Linked DNA regions of Homo sapiens: region 1 is linked to region 2. Evidence: fine-mapped expression QTL. A gene starts in region 2. The other region holds a variant in brackets. All regions are shown on one strand. Distances are between the middles of the regions.

Region 1 (9,415 bases), 270 kb after region 2:
CACCACATGGGTGTGGACCCCGGTACCTCCTGAGAACTGCCCTGCAGGTTTATCTCTGAGTCAGCTGCTCAAGGGACACAGAGAACTAACATTACGCTCTCCCCATTCTATCCCAGGTGCCCTCCAAGCAGTAATGATACCAGTCCATTTCCTCATGGGCTTAGGATCTAGCAGGAAAGGTGACATTTGCCATCAATTGTGGTGAGGCCCCCAAGCTCAGGGCCTTAGGGCTTGGCCTAGGTCAGTGGTCCCCAGCCTTTCTGGCACAAGAGGCCAGTTTTGTAGAAGACAAATTTTGCATGGATGGGGTCGAGGCAGTGGGGAATGGTTTCAGAATGAAACCGTTTTCCCTCAGGTCACTGGGCATGAGCTAGATTCTCATAAGGAGTATGCAACCTAGATCCCTCGCATGTGCAGTTTACAATAGGGTTTGCACTCCTATGAGAATCTGATGCTGCCTCTGATCTGACAGGAGGCGGAGCTCAGGGAATGCTCGCCGCCCACCGCCCCCGTTCCTAACAGATCAGGGACTGGTACTGGTCCACAGCCCGGGAGTTGAGAACCCCTGGCCCAGGTGATGCGAAGTTAGAGGGCTGAGCTGGTGCTAGCCAGGTGAAGGAGCTGCTTTGTTCATGCTTTTTTCAGGGGGTGGGGGTTCTTTTGTTGTTTAGAGACAGTATCTCACTCTGTCATCCAGGCTGGAGTGCAGTGGCTCGATCCTAGCTCTCTGCAGCCTTGACCCCATGGGCTTAAGCGATCCTCTTGTCTCATCCTTCCAAGTAGCTGGGACTACAAGTGTGTGCCACTAGTGTTTATAATAGTGTCAAAATATTGGAAACAACCTAAATGCCCAACAATAGGGGATGAAATAAAATGTGGTACCTCCATAAGACAGCTCTAAAGCCTCTAAGAATAGGGATACTGAGTGTATTCACGTGGCACTTTCTCCACTCCATTTAAAGAAGTAGCATGCACTGTACAAACCCATTCTTTAAATGAAAAAAATCTTACCTATGCATATGTAAAAATATATAGATGCCCAGAGAAAAAGGTCAACAGCATTAGACATTAAAATGTTATCGCGCTTTTCTCTGGGGATAGGATTATGGATGTTTTGGTTTTTGTTTTATAATTGACTGTATTTTCTGTTTTTCTAAGTTAATCTGAATTTTGTTTATTACCCCCAGGCTAGAAGCCTCCTGAATGTAGATGTTGGACATGGTCTTCCACAGTCTGGGCCTGTCGGGTCGTGGCCAGGCCGGGGTCCGCTCTTCCGACACATCTGGGGTCTTCAGTGGGTGCTACCTGGGCCCAGCTGTTCAGCCCCCAGGCCAAGCCTGGATCTCCTTGAGTATTTTGCTTTCCCTGCCTGCCAAGCAGAGAGAGGCAAGGGCATAAACCCTGCGGAGGAGGAGAAGGGGGAGGAGGGACAAGGCAGGAGGCGACTGTGTGCCAGAGGGAGGCCCATAAAGCCATGGGAGTGGCAGCCGCAAGAGGGGTCTCCGTTGTTTATTCACCCTTTGTGTTTCATCTACTGAAGATGGAGCATGAGCAACACGAGGGAAAAGCCCTGTCCTCTGAGCTTAGAGATCAGTGGGGGAGACAGACTAGATCAAAAACAGGTTCTATAGGGTGGTACACAATGCAGAAAAAGCAGAGGGGATGGGACAGCCCGAAGCAGGCTGGGACAGGGGCTGCGGTTCCCTGCACGCCTCCTCTCCCAGGAGAGACACCCACACACAGGCGAGCCACCTCATTGCCCTGGCCCTGGGACCAGCACCGCCCAAACCGGGTTCTCTATAAGGAAAAACACTTCCCCCTCATATGTGATAACCTGCCTCATTAAATTTAATGGGCTGGTTATTCCCGTTAAATAAACATCAACTAATTATGAAAAACATATTTGCCGAAGTTTGACTATGAAATGGACGAGCCAATTACATGGTTATTCAGCCTCAAAACACACTCAGTAATGAAGTGGGGTGCAGACTAGCAGTGGGTGGGATGGGGGAGTGCCTGGAAGGCAGAGATCCCCTCTACCCTTTCCCATGCTGCAGAGCTTGGGGGGCCTCCAAATGTCAGCTTGCTGGACAGAGGCTCGGTGTCGGTCACCCCCTCCCGCACACGTGACAGAACCCTCGCTGAAACTGACTACCGCAAAGAATGTGTGGGCTTCAAAAGTCCAGGAGTGAGCTTCAGGCCAGCTGCATCTAGAGGCTTAACCACAGTTACTGGGACCTGGGCTTTCTCCTTCCAGCCCAGCTCTTTCTGTCCCCATTGTTTTGTTCCCAGCTTTCCATGGGTCCAAGCTCTGGTGTAGCTTAGCAAGGTCCTCTGCTGAGGGGCTCACCAGGCCAAGATGAGGTGAGGCACCCCGTGTGTCTCCGTGAGAGTCTCCAGCAATGCTCACCTTACAAGGTGAATTTCTCTTTCCCTGAACTTCCAGCTCAGGGTTAAAGGTCAGATAAAAAAAAAAAAAAACCCTAGCACTAACAAAGTAATATTAGAAAATCCTCCAGGGAGACCAGTAAGCATAAGAAAAAAACTATTCCACATCATCACGACTAACCAGGGAGATGCAAACTGAAACCACCAGGAAGTGCTTCTACATCCAAGCAATGGCTGAGGTGAAAGGACAGGCAATACCCAGCGTCAGTGAGAAGGAGCAACCCCCGGGGGCTCACTGCTGCTGTGAGGAGTATGAAAGGATGACAGTTGCTTCGGAAAATGGCTTGCCAGTTCCTTACAAAGTTAAACATTCGCCTACACTGCGATGCAGCAATCTTACTCCTGAGTTAATACCCAAGAGAATGAATATGTATGTCCTCTAAATAGTACGCACAAGAATGTTCATAGAGCCTTACTCATCACAGCCACAAGGTTAAAATAACCCAAGTGCCCATGGAAAGTAGAATGGTTAAGTTGTAGTTTATTCACACGATGAAATACTACAGCATCACGAAAAAGAACACACTCGAGCTCCCTGTAGCAACATGGATGGATCTCTCAGACACCTCGCGGTGAGAGACAGAGGCAGATACAGAAAAATTCACGGTTGTATTAGCTTTCTGCTGCCTCCTAACTAATGACCACAAACAGTCACTTGCAGCAATATATGTCTGTCCCCTGCTTTCCGTGGGTCAGAGCTCTGGTGTGGTGCAGCGAGGTCCAAGACTGCCCTCCAGATGTGGCTAGCCTGGGTTCCTCTCTGCAGCTCAGGCTCCTCATTCAAGCTCACCTGGATATTGGCAGAATTCATTATCTTGCTGGAGGATCGATGGGCTGTCTTTTTGCTATCAGCTCAGCTAGAGGCCACCAGTCGTCCCCTGCCTGGAGACTTGCTCACAGACTCTCCATTGCCAGCAAAGAGATCCCTTGTATGTGTAACATAATCATGAGAGGGACATGCCTTCACATTTGCCCAATCTATTGCTTGGAAGCAAGTCACACACTTAAGGTGGGGGGGATTATAGAGATCTGACTCATGGGAGACCTGGAGTATGTCTGCCATGGTACTGGATGGGTCTGTTTATATGAAGTTCAAAGATAGGCAAAACTAACCTATGGTGAAGGAGTCTGGATAGGGGTTCTCTGGGGGGCGAGGGGTGGGGTCAGAAGGAACCTTTGTTTTGTGGAGATTACACATGTATTTGTGTAGAAGTGTAAAGATGCATTCATTGAGCTGTGTGCCTAAGGATTGGGGACTGCATTGTATGTGAAGGAAATAAGAAGGAGAGAGGGAGAAGGGAAAGGAAAAAGGAAGGAAAGAAGGGAGGAGAGAGAGATCTATCTAAAAGCAGCTCTTAGTTTGTATGTTTTTTTGCAGAGAGGCAGGATGTCCCTCTGTATCTGCACGTTGGACACAGTGTATACGTCTCTTCATGGACACAGGAGACACCCATATCAGTTTTTGCTCTGGTGAGCTGGGGGCAGGTGCTGGAGGGAGGCCGACTTCATTGTATCCTTTTATGCATTTCTTGGATTTTTTTTTTACAACGAGCATATATTTTAATAATTAAAACATCTTAAAAAAAAAAAAAGGCCAGACAACTCAAAGGGTAAAGTGTACTTGGGGCGGCGGTGGCTGTGATATCAGAGCAATTGTCCCCACACCATCCCCACCTTATAGTGTGAAGTTGAGAGGTGAGTGCAGCTGTAAGTTGGGGAGACTGCTAGCATCTGTTCCAGGTTGGGGAAAGTCTCTTGTATTTTCCTCCTAGTGGCTGCAGCAAAGGGTCAGGTAGGGACACCACACCTGGGAATGCACACAGAGGAAGGTGAAACCAAGAAATAGATGCCTGGTGACATTATGGGAGTCCCCGGATTCAGCCCTGCCTGAAGCCAGACAGGGAAGCACATTGATGAATGTCCCTTGGGATGAAGCAAAGCCGGGTTTCAGCCAGCTTCCTCCGGTGCTGTCCTGCCCATGGTTTATGTCCGGTGTCTACTCTGACTGGCTGTTAAACATATACATATTTTTCAGTTTTTAAAGATGGAGTCACACTGTGTTGTCCAGGCTGGAGTCAACCTCCTGAATTCAAGTGATCCTCCCCCCTCAGCCTCCCAAGTAGCTGGGACTGCAGTCGCATGCCACTGCACCTAGCTTTGGCTGTTAAATGTTTAAATGTTTAAATATTTTAAACATTTTGGTGTTTATTCCTTGAGCCCAAAAAGCTCTGCCATCTGGATGGGGTCTCCAGGCCATGGGGCTTGGAGCTAGGTGCTGTGTGTTCAGGTCCAGCTCCTCCCTTCGCTGCCCTGCTGCCCCCTCCTCAGTGGGCCTGCGTCCCTGGGGCTGGTACCTGGCACACCACGTGCCCAGGAAGGGTGGGCAACTCGGTTGGCCTGGGCTTCTGAGGGCACAGGAGAGCTGGGCTGGTTCTGCCTGCGCATTTTCTGTGGAATGCAGACCATGCTGGCAACACCAGGGCCTCGGGACACCTCTGCTTCTGACGCAGGCCCAGGACAAGGGGTGATGCCCTGTGGTGAGCTGCAGCTGCTCCCAACCCAGGCCGGGTGGGCGGGTGCTTCAAGGCAGGCTTCCCAGAAGAGGAGGAGCCTGTGCGGGGGCTGGAGGAAGGTCAGCAGGGTGACCTCAGGGGAAATAAGTTGTTCCCTCTGTCTCCAGAACAGAGGAGCAGAACAAGCATCATGTGCAAAGCTCGTGGTGAACCGGGGAAAGCACAAAGCACCCCC[G/A]TGATGGAGGGTGGGGGTAGGGTAGGAAGAGAGGCTGGCAGGGGGAGGGCGACTCTCTGCTTCCTCCGGGGGCCTCTGTGGCTCCGTCTGTGGCTGTCCAGAGCAGTTGCCAAGTATGCCCCTGGGGCCTGTCACTTCTTCATGCCTTGGTTTCCTCATCCATGTAAAGGGGGCAGTCGTGGCCCCTCCCCACCCACCCGGTGGTCAAGATGCCTTGGGGAACCTGGCATAGGGCCGGCCCTTCAAATTTCTTTGCTCTGGTCCTCACAGAGACCCCAGGGCCACGTGATTTGTGGTGTGGTCCCGAAAAGGCACTGAGGGATGGTGTCGGGAGGGGACCCCATGTTGCTGCCTTCAAACCCTGTGCTCCTTCAGATGAGCCCCCAGCTGCCATGGTGGCATTCCCCGCTGGGCCAGGGTTGCTCCATAGGGCTGAGGCAGAGTATGGCATGGCGGTTAGAAGAGATCCCCAAACTCCCACCCTCCCTTTCCAGCTCCACTCCCACCCATGCACCAACCCATCAATAGTGCAGGCTGCTGCAAAGAGGCATGCATGGGGCTGGGGGTGGGTAGGGGGCTCCCAGCAGGCTCTCCATGGCTGGGGCTGGAATCCAAGGCTAGCAGCTCAGGCCCCTGGAGGCAGCCTGCTGCTGGTCAGGTGGCAGATTGTGTTTTCCAAAGACTGCCTCCCCTGCACATCCGTCCTGCAGGGCTTTGCAATGCACAGTGGGCCTGTCACCCCTGCCAGAAGAGGGGGCTGTGCTCTGTTCCCTGGAGAGCCATGGGGCTTGTCACCAATCTGCCTGATGCAGCGTAGCCCAGCGGTGGTGCCCTCCAGGCTTCTGAGCCCCAAACCCCCGCTTCTCCTCCTCTGTACTTCCTCTCCCTGCCCCCCTGGATGGGAGCTGTGCATGGACACATAAGAAGGTCGGCTGCCCTGAAGCCACCATGCTGGAGAGGCTGTGGAAAGGCCCCACAGAGCTAGACAGAGCTGCCAAAGAGCCCCGCCCCAGGGGAGTCTTGCCAGACAGGTGGGTGAGGAGCTGCAGCCTGTGCAAGTCCCAGCTGAGGCCTCGGACACTGGGACAGAGACCAGCCTTTCCCACTGTCCTCTCTGAATTCCCTGCAGAGACCATAAGAGAGAAGAGCAGCTACTGGCTGAAGCCACTACATTTTAGGGCGACTTGTGATGCTGCAGCAACTGATAGCAACTGCACCCCCACAGCCCCTGATGGATGCTCTGCCTGGCACCAGGCTCTGTGCCCCTGAGAAGATGGGCTCCCTGGCTTGCAGAGCTGCTATTTGTGGGGCCGGAATAATAAACAGCTGAATGGACCAGAGACTATCAGTTGGTTAAATGGGACTGGGATGCATTTTCCATCAGGGAATCAATCGGGGCTCCTCTGAAGAGGTGATATGAGCTCTGAGGCCTGGAGAAGGAAGAGATGGCTCTGGGAGCTGGGACCAGGCAGCCCAGCCCAGGATTGCTGTGATGGCCTCTGCTGGGTATGGCCCCCAGAGGCCTGCTGGCCTGTGAGCTCTATGGGGGTGCACAGGGCACTGGTTCTGCCCAAGAGGAAACGCCAGCAGTGGAGTTGGTGCTGGTGTAAGAGCAACAGCAAAGGTATTTTTTTTAACTTTTTATATTGAAATAATGATAATCTGTAACAATTACAGATTCACAGGAAGTTGGAAAGATAATAGAGAGAGAAGCCTGTGTACCCTTCACCCAGTTTCCCCCAATGGTCACATTCTACATAACCACCACACATCAGAAAAGGGACATTGGCACTGGTGTGACAAGGGTGTCAAGCCCTGTGTCACTTTATCACACATGGAGATCCATGTTTCTGTCCCTGTAACCAGGATACAGAGCTGTTCCCTCTCCATGGAGACCCCCTGGTACTCCCTTTCACAGTGACAATCACCCCCCTACCCCAGCTCCTGGCAGCCGCCAATCTCCTCTCCATCTCTATGATTTTGTTATTTCAAAAATGTTATATAAATGGAATTATGCCATTTACATTTTCTGTAATTACTGACATAACTTCAGTCTGCTGTTTTATTTTTTGCTTTGTTTGTTCCTGTGTTTGTTGGTGGTGGTGTTTCTCTATTTTCTTTTTTTTGCCTTGCTGAGTGTTACTTGGACATATTTAAGCATCTATTTTGGTTTTTGTACAGTGTTTTTAGTGTATATCTTTGTATAGATTTCTAGTGGCTGCCATACTGCATTATACATATGTACTTATCACAGTCTACTGCCATCAACATTTTACCATTTCGAGTGACATGTAGAAAGCTTCCCTCTCTTTGTGTCCCTTTTCCCCTTCCATTTATAATATAATTATCCTAAATATTTTTTCTACATACATTGAGACATTCGACAATGCTATAATTTTTGCTTCAACCACCAAATGTAACTTAGAAACCTTCAGAGAAGGGGTCCATTGTATTTACCCATAGTTTTGCTCTTTCCATTGTACTTTCTTCCTGATGTCTCAAGATTCCTTCCTTATCACTTTCTTTCCATGAGAAGAACTTCCTTTGGCCCTCCTTTCACAGTAGGTTTGCTGGCAACAAACTTACTTTTCCCTTCACCTGAGAAGGTCTTGATTCCTCCTCATTCCTGAGGGATAGTTTCACTGGGTATAGAATTTATGGTTGACAGCTCTTTTCTTATGGCACTTAAAAACGTTCCACTTATTTCTTGCCTCCATGCTTTCTGATGAGACATCCATGTTTTTTGGAAGGTGGTTACGTGGCTGCTTTCAAAATTGGGGTTTGTTGTTGTTTAGTTTTTGGAAGTCTGACTGTGATATGTCTTGGTGTGGATTTCCTTGGGTTTATAACGTTTGGAGTTCATTCAGCTTCTTAAATCCTTACATTTATGTCTTTTGCCAAGTTTAGGAGATTGCTTCTTCAATATTTTTTCGGCTTTGTCCTCTTTCTCTTCTCCTCCTGGCAATTAGATGACATGAATATTAGATCTTTTGTTATCTCTCAGAGAACTCTTTTCTCCCACCCCTAGTCTATTTTCTCTCTGTTTCAGACTGGGTGGTTTATATTGCTCTATCTCCAGGTTCACTGCATCTTTCCTTTGTCCCCTCTGTTCTGCTTTGGAGTTATCGATTAAGTTTTTATTCTGATTATTGTATGTTTTTAAAAAATTCTAAAGTGTCCATTTGGTTCTCTTTATAACTTCTATTTCCTTGCTGAAACATTCTTTATTTTCATTTGTTTCAAGCATGTTCATAATTGCTCATCAAAGCACCTTTAGGATGGCTGCTTTAAAAGCCTCATCAGGTAATCCTGATATTCCTTCCTGTTCAACATATACCAGTATTGGTGTATGCTGATTGTATTTTCTGGTACAACTGACATTTCTCTGGTTCTTGCTATGACAGGTGATTTTCTTATTGGATCTTGAAAGTTTGGGGTATTGTATGTTGAGACTCTGGATTACATTTCAATCTTCTGTTTCACAGCTGGCCTCTCCTGACCCCATATGGTAGACAGAGAGGGGTGCTGCCCCATTACATCAGGAATGGGGGAGGGAAACCCAGCATCCCCACTTTAACCCAGGTGTTTTTAGCACAATGAGAAAACTTGGGTTGCTTCCCTCATCTCCAGGGAAGCAGGAGGCTGATCTCTTGCTGCCCTGCTTCTTGGCAGGGCAGTGGGGGCAAGGGCTGCTAGGCCTTAAAAAGAGGGTGCCAGGGATGGCTTTTCCAGAGGCTATGGCCCTGGAGAGGGCTCCCATACTTGGGAACATCTTTGGTGACCTGACTGTGACCCCCAGGATGACAAGCAGCATTCTGGGAGTGGTAGGAGCTGGACTGAGCCACGGACTGCAAACTGGAGGCCTGCTGGCTGGGATCTTCACACTTTTGAAAGGTCTTGTTCACTCCACACTCTCCCAATAACATGTGCATGCATTCCACCGATTACTGCTGCTGCAGCCCTGGCCTGCTCCGGCATTTGGCCCATCTCACTATTTACCTCCATCAACTACTTGGCCCCTGAAGTCATCTGAGTTTGCAGCCCCAGGAGGAGGCAGTGCCAAGTCCCCCCAGTCTCCAGGGATTGCTTGCATGTGTGTGGGCAGGTGGGGGGCAGGGGGAGGGACTCTGCTACTCTGTCTTTTGTGCAATAAAGTATTGACATTGACCTGGTTTTGTCTCCAGACCGGGAGTGGGGTGGTGACAGACCTACGCCCAGA
Region 2 (9,415 bases):
TTTTTTATGGCTGGATAAAACACGCGTGTGTGTGTGTGTGTGTATGTATATATATGTGTGTGTAAAACATTTTATCTGCTCATCTGTTGATGGACACAGGTTGTTTCCATATTTTGGGTATTTTGAATAATACTACAATGGACATGGGGGAGCAGATATATTTTCAAGATTTCATTTCCTTTAGATATATACTGTTAAAGGAAAAACTTGAGACTGATTAAAGAGTTTGAGAAAAGGACAAGTTACAAATCAGGGAGCCCCCCAAATCAGAATAGCTTCAAAGAGACTTCAGTGCTGCCAGTGGGGTTGGAGAGGATTTAGGGACAGGAAAAGGAAAATGACATAAATAAAATGGAAGTGAAATACAGAAATAGCCAGATTGGTTACAGCTGGGTTACAGACTTATTTGAACACCGAACAGTTGGCCACCTGTGAGTAGTATGTCTTCTGATTGGCTGAGACTTGGCTACTTGTTATAAGAGTAGGTTACAGTCTGTTTACACATCCAGTTAGATTACAGTTCACTATGTATGGATCAACCTTTAGGCTGAACTTACAAGGAAGCAGCTTTAGGCTAAAGTTAACTATACAGAAATAGGATTATTAGATTGTATTGACTTTTGGGGGAGTTGCCATACTCTCTCCCATAATGGCTCTACAAATTTATATTCCCACCAGCAGTGTGCAGGGTTCTCTTTTCTCTACATCCTCACCAACACTTCTCTTGTCTTTATTACAATACTGATTCTCACAGGTGTAAGGTGATATCTCACCATGGTTTTAATTTGCATTTCTCTGATGATTAGTGGTGTTGAGCGCTCTTCATATGCCTGTTAGCTATTCACATGTCTTCTTCAGAAAAATGTCTATTCAAGTCCTTTGCCCATTTTTAAATTGGGTATTTATTTTTGCTATTGAGTTGTGTGAGTTCCTTATAGAGTATATTTGGATATTAAGCACTTATCAGATATATGGTGCCCAAATATTTTCTCCCAGTCTGTAGGTTGCCTTTTCAGTTTGCTGCTTGTTTCCTCTTATGTGGAGAAGCTTTTTTAGTTTGATGTCATACCATTCGTTTATTTTTACTTTTGTTGTTTGTGCTTTTGGTGTTATAGCCAAAAAAATTATCATCAAGACCAATGATAAGAAGCTTTCCACCTATGTTTTCTTCTAGGAGTTTTGGGGTTTCAGATCTCACATTTAAGTCTTCAATTCATTTTGAATGGATTTTTTATGTGGTGTAATACAAGGGTCCAATTTCCTTCTTTTGAATGTGGATATCCCGTATTTCCAGCTCCAATTATTGAAGAGACTTTCCTTTCTCCATAGTGTGTATATTCTCGGCACCATTATCAAACATTAGTAGACCATATATGCATGGGCTCTCTATTTTTCTGCATTGATCTATGTATCTATTTTTATGCCAGTACCATACTCTTTTGATTACTACAGCTTTGTAATATAGTTTGAAATCAGGGAGTATGATGCCTTCAGCTTTCTGCTTCTTTCTCAAGATTGCTTTGATGATTTGGGGTCTTTTGTGGTTCCATATGAAATGTTAGAATTGTTTTTTCTATTTATGTGAAAAATGTCATTAGAATTTTGATAATGATGACATTGAATGTGTAGATTACTTTGGGTAGTAAAGCCATTTTAACAATATTAATTCTTCTGATCTATAAACACAGGCTATCTTTCTACTTATTTATGTCTCCTATAGTATCTTTCAACAGTGTCTTATAATTTTTAGTGTGCAATTTTTTGTGTGCATCTTTCTTTCACCTCCTTGGTTAAATTTATTCATATTTTATTCTTTTTGGTGTTATTGTAAGTGGGATCATTTTCTTAATTTCTTTTTGAATAGTTTGTTGTCAGAAATCAGTAATAGGAAGAACTTTGGAAAATTCACACATGTGCGGAAATTAAACAACACATTCCTGAACAGCCAATGAGCCAAAGAATAAATCAAAAGGGGAATAAACAAGTATCTTGAGACAAATGAAAATGGAAACACAAGGTACCACAACTTATAGGATGCAATAGAAACATTTTTAAGAGGGAAGTTTATAGCGAAAAATACCTACATTAAGAAAAAAGAAAGACATCAAACAACCTAATTTTATATCTCAAGGAACTAGAAGAGGAACAAACTAAGCCCCAAAGTCAGCAGACTGAAGGAAATAAAAAAGATGAGAGCAGAAATAGAAACTAGAAAAACAACAGAAAAGATCAACAGTAAAGATCAACAAAATTAACAAACCTTAGCTAGACTAACCAAGAAAAAAGGTAATTCACATAAACAAAAGTATAAATGAAAGAGGAGACATTACAACTGATATCACAGAAATACAAAAGATCATAATCAACTACTATGAACAATTATACACCAAGAAACTGGATAATTTAGGAGAAATGGACGAATTCCCAGAAACATACCATCTATCCAAACTGAGTCTTGAAGAAACAGAAAATCTGAACAGACCAATAACGAGTAAGGAGATTGAATTAGTAATCATAAACCTCCAAGGAAAAGAGACAAAGGAAAGCCCAGGACCAGGTCTGACCACATCTTTACTCAGTTTTCCCCGCGGCCCCCGGTCCCCACCCCTCTTAGCCTGTCTCCCTAACTTCCTTTCTCCTGAGGTGCTCCCCCAGGAAACTCCTTGCACCAGAATCCCCTACGCAGGCTCTGCTTATAGGGAAGAAATGGACGACAGAGGTGATGGAGTGGGGTGCGCCAATGAAGTATTTTGAATGAAACTAGCAGACACCTTTGTTCCTAAAGATTCCATCGTCACACCAGCTCTGGGATGTTTACTAGCTTCTTCACCCTGAGCTATTCTCAATCTCAGAGCCTTACTGCTCTCTCTCAATCATTCTCTCCTCCTCACCCCTTTCTTTCCAGGTTGCCAATAGGAGCTCCAAATATTTTCTGGCTATTTCATGTAGCCATCTAGTTTTCCTCAGCTCGGCTTCAGGCGCACTTTTGCAAATCAAAGCCATTCAGCAACTCAGAGGAACAAAAAGGGGCTTATTTGAAGGTAGCAGTGTCTATGACTGGCAACCGTCTGTGTGCTCCCTTACACATAGGGTCCTGTGTAAGAAGCCTACACACAATGCCTGGCACACTGCACTCCACACATGGTATGTACACTCCTTGGGCAATGCCTCCTAACGGCTTAGGACCATTCCCTGTCCTCCCGGGGCGTTTAGAATAAAACCCACACTCAGACCCTGCCTCACAAGACCCGACATGATTTGGGTCCTCACCACTCCTCTGCCCTCTTCTCACTTTCCAGCCATGGGATGACCCCTCTTTCTCTTTTCCTGCCTGAGACTCCCAGGAAACCTCTTCCCCTACCTTTTTCTACATAAATCCTACTCTCCCGCCGGCTCAGTTCAAAGCTTCTTCCTCAGAGGTTGCTCTGGCCACTGAAATTAAAAGAGGCCTCCTTCTGTTCATTTTACTAGTGGCATCGCCATGCAGTTTTCCGTGTATTACAGTCAGTTTCCTTGCGTGCGTGTTTGGCTTTTCACTTGTTTTCCCCTTGCACTGTAAACCTCTCAAGGGCAGGACACTCGCTGTCTTGAGGGGCGCTGTAATGCCAGGGCCAGGTCCCTGCTCGTCTGGCGCTCAGCCCGTGCTGCTCTACACGTGTTTGCTGAATGAATGGAGCAGTGAACCCTCAGAAATTCGCCTCCAGATGAGCGCCTTGGCCGTCTCGGCGTCTCCTGGCCTCAGAACATCACCCTTGGCTCTCCCTCAAGGGGGAGCTCCCAAAGCGAGAACGTGACCCTGTCCTGCACCCAGCCCTCCACTCCAGGGCCTCCGCCGGTACACATCTTCGGCCTCAGCCTAACGCACTCTAGCAGGCACAGACCGCCACGCCCCCACCCCTCCAGACGGAAGGACTGCAATCCCCACAAGGCACCGCGACTCAGCGCCACCCGATTGGTGAAGCCTCTGGCGTCGGCCAATAGGACGTGGCTTTGTTGGCGTGTGCCGCGGCCGCGCGAGTCCTGGAAAGCGTTGTTGGCCCGGTTGCTCTGGAGCCGGGTCTCGGGTCTGGTGGCTGCCGGCCCTGCGGCATCTCGCCATGGGGAGCACGGAGAGCAGCGAGGGCCGCAGGGTGTCCTTCGGAGTGGACGAGGAGGAGCGGGTCCGGGTGCTGCAGGGTGTCCGGGTGAGCGGCGCCGCCTGGGCCGGGGCGGGCGTGGAGGCCGCGGGCGCGGGGGGGAGGTGCGGGGCGGAGCGCAGGGCCGGGGCTCTTTCCACGCGTGAGGGGCGTGGGGCTTGGGAGACTCCGGGGGCTCAGGCCAGGAAGAGGCTGAGCCGAGACGCGAGCCCGAGGCTGGCAGCCTTGGAGCTTCGCGACATGGGCTTCAGGGAAGGAGGAGTGAAGAACTGTACAGGTGCGAGGCCCCTGGGACACGAGGGACGCCCTGGCCACGTCCTGGCTCCGGTCGGCTTAGTTTTTACGTTTCTTGAATTTGCGCCCGGCCTCCCAGCCCGTGGCCCCTCAGGTGCGCGCATCTCGTTCTGGGTACGCGGTGTCTCCCACCTGGGCTTTGCCTGGGGACTCAGCTCTTCCCCGCCGGCCTGTTCTCCACAGCACATCTGCGGGGCGCAGGAAGAACCATAGCTCAGATCTGATCCCCTTCCTTGCCTGAAACCCTCCAGTGGGTTCCTAGCGCGCTTGGATGATGCCTTCCCTGGTTCCAAAGCTGGCCGCTGCCCGTCGACCTCTGGGGACTGCATCCCTCTGGGACTGCATCTCGTGCCATTTCCCTCGCGTGGCACCCGCACCTCGTCCCCAGCCTCAGGACCGCCGTGTTTTCCTGGAGGGTGCCGCTGGCTCAGCTCAGGGTCTGTGCGCCGGCTGTTCTCTCTCCTTCAGCTCTCCTTAAATCCCGCTGTTTCTTGTAATTCTTGTTGTAATTCAGATATCACCAGAGAATCCTTCCCTGACCACCCAATCTGAAGTAACCTCCCACCCCGCGTCCAACATTTATTATTTTCATAGCACTCATCACAGTGATCGCTTCTGTTGATAATTGTTTACTTGTTTATTGCGTTTACTGCTAGAGTGTAAGCTTTTTGAGGCTAAGGTTCCTGTCTGATTGAAGACTGTCCCCAGAACCCAGAAGAATAAAAGCAGCTCTTATTGCAGTGTAGGGGCCATGCGTTGGACTAAACCCTTTATAAGTTAACTGATTTAATTTTCAACAGCCCTATTTAGCCCATTATTGTAGATTAAGGAGAAGTGAGGCACTGAGAGGTGAACGAACTGATCCAAGATCATGTAAATAGTAAGTGGGAGAGCTGGGATTGAAACAAGCCAATTCCAGGGCATGTTGCTGTGCTCGGCCTCTTCCTCCACCTGTGTCTACACCTGCAGGTGCTTTGTAAGTAACTGTGGAGAGATGAATGAACCCAGTAAAAGGGACTAGGATTAAATGAAACGCACAGAGCTGGGTGTAGATGAATTAGTTAATTAAGGAGGAATTAGGGAGGTGGCTTAGAAAGACAGACTTCAGGAGTTCTGGCAGGTGCTCATTAGCTGTGTGACCTTGGGTAAAAAACTCTTTTGAGCCTCAATGGCCACATTAAAAAAAAAATTGGGTGTGTATGTATCCTAGGTACTGCCTAGGATAAGATGATGTCTGTGAAAGTGTTAAGGAAACGCACAGAGAGAGTGCTTTGTGGAGGCCTCTCTTCTTAGCCTAGCAGAGTACTTGGCACATTTGGTGCTTGCTAGGCGTTGTATAGTTTTGTGGACCTCACTCGTGGCAAGGATTAAATGGGGGAGGAGATGGCTTGTGTTGGAAGGCCGAGAGGGAGGAACCTGAATTGGAATTTAGAAAGATAAGCTTGGCTCTGTTTGGGTGCTCTCACCCTTGTGATTTGGTCTCCTGTTTTGGGGAATGTTGGAAAGTTAAGTTGGAGTCCTCAGAGGTTCAGGGGAGTGCCTTTGGGGGTGCCTTCTTTCAAGTTGATTGGAAACCTCATGTTTTTTGAGTATTATATAAGACAGGTACATTTCATTTCTAGTTCTCTTAAATACTTCTGCAACATATAAATTCTCTGTATTTAAAGATGGAGAATTGAGCTTAAAGGAGTTAAGGAATTTGCCCAAGGTGTTAACCTGAGTAACTTCTGGGACTTTAATTAAGATCTTTTCGGTGCAAAAAGCAACTTTTTCTCACTTCTGCAATTCCCCCCCATGATGTATGCAAGGCAGCCTGAAAATTTTGTGACAATACCCATACCTGTCCTGACAGGGATGATAGTGCCCCACTTAGTTTTAAAACTGGAAGGAACTTTGGTGACTGACTGCTTTCTTTTCCAGCTGGGCAAACTAATCAGAGAGGATAAATGACTTGTCCAGAGGTGCACAGTAAGGTGCACAGCCCCACGTTATGAGAGCCACGTCCTTCCTTCTGCTTGTGTTTGAAAGAGGAAAACTGAAGAAAGGAGGTGATGGTATGAAGAAAGGATGTTTTGGTGTAGAGGCTTTTTCTGTTAGCAGAGTTACTTGAGGGTTGAGGAATTCACCTTGTCTTTAGGCAAGTGAGTGAAAAAGATTGCCAGATCAACAAAACAGTTGCCAAAGGGAACAAATCAGTTCATTTAATGAGAAGCAGATGCCAAAGAAGATCTGCCCCAGCTTCTTTAGAGCAAGTTGAATATTCTTAATGACCATTTGTATTTAATTCCTGAGGCCTGGTCTTAGAAAGTGTTCTCGTCCCTGTAAGATTAAGTGTTAGTGGCTGGTAGTGGTGGCTCATGCCTGTAATTTCAGCACTTTGGGAGGCCGAAGTGGGCAGATCACCTGAGGTCAGGAGTTAAAGACCAGTCTGGCCAACATGGTGAAACCCTGCCTCTACCAAAAATACAAAAGTTAGCTGGGCATGGTGGCACACACCTGTACACCCAGCTACTTGGGAGGCTGAGGTAGGAGAATCCTTGAACCCAGGAGGGGGAGGTTGCAGTGAGCCGAGATTATGCCAGTGTCCTCCAGCCTGGGTGACAGAGACTCCGTCTTAAAAAAAAAAAAAAAAAAGATTAAGTGCTAGGCCTTGCTAGTTTACATACTTAGTTTGCATAAATTCACAAAGTGTGTTCAAACCGTAATTCCATGGAAGGTAAAAGAAATTTAATGAATGCAAAATGCTGCAGTTATATTCAACTCCAGTTTTCAGAGCAAATGTGTGAAATACGTAAAGATTTTGTTTTAACCAGTACATTTAACCTCATCCTTCAGTAAGAGAAGGCACACATGGCAGTCATGGCGCATATGTGTCTGCCTTCCCTCTCCTCCTCTCCACATGAGCCGCCCTTTTTGGTGATTCAGCTGATGTTGGTTGCTTGTGAGCATCCAGACTGCTCACTGTTCACCAGCCTTTCCCCCTTTCCCACCACTGAGCCCACCCCTGTTCCAGTCACTTGCATGTTCCCAGAGTCATTATCCCCTCCAGGCTTGATCAACTTTACCGTCATGCATTGCTCCCATGAGGCTGATTCTGGACCACGGTGGAGGGGAAGATCAAGAAGAATGTGGTCAGACACACAAGAGAGTCCCCCATTGTGCCAGTGCCAGAGAGGCCGTGTGCCAGAGCGCTGCACCTGCAACTGCCAGTTATTCCTCACCTCAGTGAATGTCCACTGCCTTCATGTTACTTGCCCAGCACTGGGCCTGGCCTTGCTGAGACAATGAGGGACAAAGCCGAGGACCCTGTCATCATAGAGACCTCAGCCCAGTAGGGAGAATGGACCAGAAAGGAAGAGACACAGGCAAAAGACTCAAAGAGCTGCCAGAGCTAAGGAGGAAACAAAAAGGGTGCAAAAGCTACTGGGGCTGCCTGCTTGAGGTGGGATGGTCAGGCAGTGCCTCTCAGGAGGAGATGTTGACTGTGGCCTGAGCCAGCCCTATGAAGAGTGCATATTCACTCTGTGCTAAGCACTCTGCCAAGTGTATTCAGAGCATCACCCCAGAAATTCCACATGCTTACCTTGTGAGGGGTCATTATCCCCATCTCAGAAGTGAGGAAACAGGTTCAGTGAGGTGAAGTAACCCAAGGTCACAGTGCTGGAACCTCAGGGTCTCTGACTCCATAGCCCATGTGCTTGGCAGCCACAAGGAGGGTAGGATGCTTGAGGATGTGGCAGGTGGTGAGGCCAGACTCAGGGCCCAAATGCCAGGCAGGGCTGTGAACATGTTATTCTGGAGGCCACGCTGCAGTTCTCTGGTCAGGAGCAGAGCTTTGGAAAGGTTCTGTCTGGTGACACTGATTTTTCTTTAAAAACAAAAACCAACAGTTGTAAGCCAGGTGCAGTGGTATGTACCTGTAGTCCCAGCTACATGGGAGGCTGAGGCAGGAGGATCACCTGAGCCCAGTGGTTCGAGTCCAGTGTAGCAAGACCCCATCTCTTGAAAAAAAAAAAAAAAAAGCTTTATTGGGATGCATCATTTTACATATTATAAAATTCACCCATTTCAATGCTTTTTAGTAAACTGTGGTGACAGAATTGGACAACTGTCACCACAATCCAATTATAGAACATTTACAAGACCTAAAAAGATGCCTTGACCTGTTTGCAGTCACTCCCCATTCCCACTCCCAGTCCCAGGTAACCATTAATCCTGTTTCTCTATAAATTTACCTTCTCTGGACATTTCGTAGATAGTCCCCTCTTGGTCTTTCAATGACCTATCCATGGGTCGTTGGTTCCAGGACCCCCATGGATACCAAAATCCTTGGATGCTCAAGTCCCTAATGGAAAATGGTGTATTTGCATATATACTACACATATTCTCCTGTATACTTTAAATTATCTCCAGATTACTTATAATACCCAAACACTGTAAATTTTGTGTAAATAGTTGTTATACTGTATTTTTAAAGATTTGTATAATTTTTTTGGTATATTATCTTTTATTGTTTCTTTTTCTCAAATGTTTTCCTTTGGACCCATGGATACGGAGGACTGACTGTAAACGTAAATGATTAATGCATCTTTTATTTCTGGCTTCTTTCACTGAGCAAGTGTTTTTGATGTTGGTTCATTGATGTCGTAGTATATATCAGTAGTCCATCCTTTTTATTGCTGAATGGTATCCTGTTGTATGTATATACTGCATTTGGCTTATTCAGTCACCAGTTGAGGGCATTTGAATTTTTTCTACTTCTTGGTTATTGTGAGTAACGCTGCTATGAACATTTATGTATTTACAAGTTGTTTTTTTGCAGGCAAATGTTTTTAGTTCTCATGGATAGATACCTGAGAGTGGATTTGTTGGGTCATTCAGTTTATGAATTTTGTGAATTGTCAGGTTTAATTTTTAAAGAAACTGCTGAACTGTTTGCTGAAGAAGCTGTACCATTTGATATTTCCACCAGCAATACATGGGAT

What was found.
Region 1: its variant is fine-mapped to the expression of CHCHD6 in lung (TOPMed, PIP 0.91).

What each region holds. Positions count from the first base shown.
Region 1 is chr3:126,967,065-126,976,479 of GRCh38, forward strand. No RefSeq gene overlaps it. Among named protein-coding and RNA genes, the nearest start is that of PLXNA1, 11 kb to the right of the region's middle. The variant G/A (reference allele first, on the strand shown) is at 5,197.
Region 2 is chr3:126,700,216-126,709,630 of GRCh38, forward strand. CHCHD6 (coiled-coil-helix-coiled-coil-helix domain containing 6) reads left to right here and starts at 4,025. Exons shown (of 8, transcript NM_032343.3): 1 at 4,025-4,184. The coding sequence starts at 4,098. RefSeq lists enhancers at 3,605-3,664, 4,725-5,276 and a silencer at 4,215-4,414.